Regions from separate parts of the Homo sapiens genome. Here region 2 is linked to region 1. The links come from fine-mapping of genetic effects on gene expression. Tissue or cell type: hypothalamus. Region 1 holds a variant in brackets; the other region holds the start of a gene. All regions are shown on one strand. Distances are from middle to middle.

Region 1 (2,757 bases):
CTCACACCACCACATTCTAGCCTGGGTGATAGCACAACCCTGTCTCAAAAAAATAAAAATTAAATTAGATCAAATTAACCATCACATATGGTAAGTGTGTTTAACTGCCAAATTGTTTTCCAAAGCAGCTGTCCCCTTTTCATTCTCACCTCCAATGTATGAGTGTTCATGTGAGTGATTACTTATAAACATTCTTGTAGCCAAAACTCTTAGAGTATACATTCAATTTGCTATAGCATTGGGATATTTAAAAAAAGTCAATCTTGCTGTACAAAAGGGAAAATAATTTTCTCTCTATCCTTTGTAGTTCTTGGTTGGGACAGAGTGACAGACATCTGTAGCCAAAGACAGATTAACAAACAGGTTTATTAACATGTGTACATAGGAGATATCTGTTGAAATTGGTAAATCTCAAAGAGATGGCTTTAAATTTAGTCTTAAATACCATCGTGTGCTGAAACGAGAAAGAATGATATTGGGAAGGCTGGTTATGTGGAGATGCTCAGGAAAAACAAGGGTAAGGTTTGTTATGCAGATTTCAGCCAGTGCCTTCTCCATTTATACACATCTTAGTGACTTTGTCATCCATCTCTTCCTGGTACAGAGAAGGAGGCACTCTTACAAATGGAGATTCCCTTTATAGATATAAATTTCTCTTACAAAACGATAACTTCTAGTACTCTGTTTTCAGAATTTCTCCTGTGTCTGCAGTTTCTCAAAATAATCAGCTCAAAATAATCCTTATGCCAAAAAACCATTATTTTGGAGCAGCATATTCTGGTCCTCAGCACTGCCATCAGAAATTTGTTTGTAAACAAACATCCAGTATGAGTGTTTTGACTTTTAAGTGTTGACCTTAGGAGGAAGTACATTTATTGTAATGTAGCTTAAAAAGGGTAAGTAAGCTGTTTCATGTTACATCACTAATAAACTGGCTTACTAGCTAATATGTCTCATCCTTCAAAGGCTGGCAAGTATTTTAAAATCTAACCTACCTTACGCATGCCCTCAGCAGAAACCAATATCTTAATTAGAAACAACAAATCAAAAAACCTAAATGGTGTTAAAGAGCACCCGCTTCCCAGACATTTGTTCTTAATTTCCTCCCCAGTAGGAGACGTTAGCTCTTATTATTTTAAATTTGCTTTTATTTTTTTAAGAGATAGAAGTCACAGCTCAAGAAGAGAGAGAAAATTTGCCTTCCTCAATCCTTTTGTATGTTTGCTTTTAATGAAAAGTGAGGGGTTTATGTAAATCGGCTGTGACTCCTCAGGTACAAGTAGAGGCTAAG[G/A]ATAGCTACTCCTGTTCTTCAGTAGAAAGATGCTTAGCTCCATCTACACTCAGCTGGTCATCTCGTTACCATGGTAACACCATCCCTCCTCCTCACTCTCGGGAGCTTTGCCTGCCTCTGCTGATGGAAGGGCATTGCCACATTTGCATCAGAAATTAAATAATACTTTCCAGGACAGATCGTACACAAGGGCTGGGGTCACAGGGATCACCAGTATGGCCTTGATAGAGGTGAGCAGAATTAGTCCAATGGTTACAGTATTTCTCTTCAGCATCATTTCCCAAAAAAGAATAGAAAATTGATGACTCAGAACTTAGTAAGCTTGTTGATTAGCAGGGTACCAAGTGGGAGTATTCTCTCCAAAGTAACAACAAAGAGCGGGAGCTTTCGGCAGCAAGCCTGCCAGGTTTTCAGGACTGTTTCCCGCTGTGCCCCTCAGTGCATGGCCCCACACTGCCTCAGAAACCTTCTTACATTGTAGGCAGCTGCTTGTTCGGGATCTGTCTCTCTCTCTCTCTCTCTCTGGAGCCCACCTCCATCTTCTGCCTTCATTCTCGTCTGTTGGCCTGCATTTCTTCTTAGGCTTGTTTTACAGTGACTGCTTGCCCAGTGATCAGTTCGTCCTGCTGGTGGACTTTGCCCCAGGATCCTTCCCCTACCCCGACCCTATCACCGGAGGTGGTTGCTGCGGTGTCTGGGAAAGGAGTCCTGCCAATTCCTCTTCCTGGCACTCGTTCTCCTGGTTTCTCCCTTCCTCTTGTCCTCTTCCTCGTTCCCTACTCCCACACTTCCTTTTTCTTTCTCTCTCCTGTTTTTCCTTTGCTTCTCCTCTTCTCAACCTAAAATTTAGCACCCTCCAAAACACAGCCACACATATTTCACCCTACTGGTGACACTGTAAATCAAAAATACAATTCTAATGCCCCCCAAAACCATCTGAATGGACTTCCTCCTTGGCCAGGGTACATGTTCTCAGGATCTCATGAGGGCTGTGTCACAGGCCATGGTCACTCATATTTGGCTCAGAATAAATCCCTTAAGTAATTATTGTTGACTCTTTTTGTTGACAGTAATTTGGTGCCTCAGAGAAGACTCAGGACCCTGAAGGAGTTAGCCAAACTCGGAGCTAAGGTACTAGCAGGGAACCATTGAAGCCTCCCTGACTTCGAGCTTCTCCAACCAGTGGAGCTGACAAGTCCTCCTGAGCCCTGGACCTCCCTTTGGTCGACGGTCCTTAATTTGTTCTGAGCCGATTTTTTCCTCCGAGGAAGTTATTGTTTAGGATTGTTTTTTTTGAGACAGAGTCTCACTCTGTCGCCCAGGCTGGAGTGCAGTGGCACGATCTCAGCTCACTGCAAGCTCTGCCTCCTCCGGAGTTCATGCCATTCTCCTACCTCAGCCTCCTGAGTAGCTGGGACTACAGGCACGCACCACCACACCCAGCTAATTTTTGTATTTTTAGTACA
Region 2 (2,628 bases), 64 kb before region 1:
AGCACCGCCTCAACAATGCCCTAATCTAGAGAATTACATAGTTCTAAGCACAGCAAATCTCCTACAAACAGATCGGGATTCAAATATTTCATTCTACAGTCTTGGGATCCTCAATGCAAGGGACAGGCTGTAAGCAAGGGTCTGGACAGCCCGGCTTGCCCTCTTGTCTCTCTGTCATGCAGAGGAGCTGTAGTTCAGTTTTTGTTTTTTGTTTATTTTACGGAGCACATTTAAAGTATAGTCTTCCTTGTCAGGAGATTCCTGGCACTAAAGAGATGGACGGGAAACTTAACCGCCTCCTCCAGATCGTCCACTATTGCATCATTTGAAACCAAAGCCTTCTAAAGGCAGCGACTCGCACAATTCAAGTCAGGTAAGATGGCAGGAACAGCAGCTGTGGGTGCTGGCTGCTGCTGGAGCCTCGGTCTCAACTTCAAGAGCAGGGAGAGCGCTGTCTCTGGAGTTGCCAGGTGCTGAAATGAATAGTCAATAAATCAACAGGTCCGGCGCGCTAGCCCCTGGGTGCTCAGGCCCGGGCGCGCCACGACTGAAGGAGTGGCTAATTACTCAAACACAGTTGAAACCAAAGGAGGCCGGAGTCGGTTCTCAAAGTGGTTTCCCTCCGGCCACCACCGACTCTGAGGACCTGCTAGGGGAAGTGTCCCGGCCCCGTGGAGGGAGAGGGAAGCACCACAGCCTGGGCTGCGGCTCTAGCCCTCCAGCCCCAGCCCCTGGCAGCCCTGCCCTGCTGTCGCGGCAGGTACCCCTCTACTCATTGTTCCTCAGGCTGCCCCCTCTTTTCATCAATCGTAAGCCTTTCGGTTCTGCCACCAGGAAACTTCCATAGAAGGTGAGATTCCCAGGTCGAGGGATGATTCCACGAACACCCAGAGAGCCAGTGCCAGGACTTCAGGGTCAGACTTCGTAAAGCCCAGGCGTCGCTGGGCCGGCCCGGAACAGCTCAGAGCTGCGGGTCCTATGGTCCCGCGCCCTCACGCCCATCCAAGTGCTGGCAGGACGTGGGTCCTCCATCCCCACGACTCGCGGGGCCGGCGCTCCGAACCTCGGCACTGCGTCCGCTCCGCGCGCCGCAGGGACCCTCCTAGCTCCAGCGGGGACAGACCTACCAAGGCCGGGCGCCCCCACCCGGCGCCCGCCAGCCCACCCCAGAGAGGGGACCAAGGGGGCGGGGCCTCGGCCGTCCTAGCCGGGCTCACTCTTCTCTCCCGGACTCCTGTCCAGGGCTTCAGGGGCCGGGCCCGCAATCCCCATCGGATCGTACCTCGTCCGCTTCCAGCTCCGCTCGGCTGCCTAAGAGCGCCATATTCCTCCTCTGGCTGCTGCCACCCAAAAACCAAGCAGGGAACTCAGAGCCGACTCCTGCTCTCGGCTCTGGGCTCAGCCCAGCGCAAAGGAGGGCAAAAGGGGACGGCCCGGCGCTCCCTCCGGGTCTCGGGCGGGGCCTGAGTGCAGCTACTCGATTTCCCCGCCCCCGGAGCCGGCAGGCCAGCACAGCATCCATTTCCTCCCCGGACGCCGCGCCGCTGGCCGGGCCACTTGCCCGGCCCCCAGCGGGCGGCAGCCCCGCCCAAGTGGGTGGAGTCACCTCCCAGATAAAGTTTCCCGGTCTGGCACGCCCTCTGGGAGGGTTTCCTAAGCTTTCCTGCCGCCTGTTCTCTGCGGTGGCTGGGCACACCTGGAAAGAAGCTAGAGAGCGCGGGCATGACGAAGCCAAGGTCAAAGCAGCGCCCCACCTGGGGTCCGTGGAAGCATCCACCTGGTCTTTGGTCCGGTGCCAGTCCTTTTCCCTCGCCAGGTGGCCACCGCATCTCGCAGATGGTGTGGCCTGAGGGCAGCCTTGGGTCACGGTCACTGGTCCCCGAGAGGCCTCTGACACACCACCCACCTGGACTGTAGGTGGAAGGACTCTGCTTGCTTCTGTGTTCAAAAAATAGAAAAAAACGCGGGACAGAGATTTATACATATTGGAACTCCTCTACTTCCCCCTACCCGGACAGTGTATTCTCCCCATAGCATCCTGTATTTTGTAACTCCAAACATAGGTGTATAATTCGTGCTTGAACTATAAACTCCATGGGGGTAGGATGCTATCTGTCCTCTTCAAGACTGTATCCCCAACACCCAGAACAGTGTCTTGCACATCGTAGGTGCTCAACAGATATTTGTTGGCTGAGTTTAGAAACTGAACCTTGCTTCTGACATGTAAAATAACTGGAAAATTAAAAGCTAGATCTTTAAGAGTTTGGGGGAGAGAGGTCAGATTTACTTTACATACAGAAAAATGCACCAAGTTAAATGTGTGATTCAGTGACAAGTGTTTACAAAGCATCCCAGTCATAATATAGAACATCCTGAAAAGTTTTCTGTGACCCTTTGCTGTCAATTTCCTACCTCCGCTCCCTAGCCTCTGTCAATCACTGATCTGCTATCAACATCGATTTGCCTTCTCTAGAATTTCATATAAATTTAATTAGAGCATGTGGTCTTCCATGTCTGGCTCATGAAAGGCTATTTAATAGTCATCCAGTGATAACTGTAAAAACAGCTAATAGTTCTTGAGTCCTTACTATGTGCCAGGACTCTACTGAACCTCTTGCATATAGTATT

The links. PIP is the estimated chance that this variant, and not a neighbour inherited with it, causes the effect.
Region 2: TTC39B starts here. The variant in region 1 is fine-mapped to the expression of TTC39B in hypothalamus (GTEx, PIP 0.97).

What each region holds. Positions count from the first base shown.
Region 1 is chr9:15,369,286-15,372,042 of GRCh38, forward strand. No RefSeq gene overlaps it. Among named protein-coding and RNA genes, the nearest start is that of SNAPC3, 52 kb to the right of the region's middle. The variant G/A (reference allele first, on the strand shown) is at 1,292.
Region 2 is chr9:15,305,802-15,308,429 of GRCh38, forward strand. It overlaps TTC39B (tetratricopeptide repeat domain 39B), which reads right to left and starts at 1,415. Exons shown (of 20, transcript NM_152574.3): 1 at 1,283-1,415. The coding sequence starts at 1,324. RefSeq lists enhancers at 53-616, 1,180-1,742 and silencers at 980-1,299, 1,330-1,669.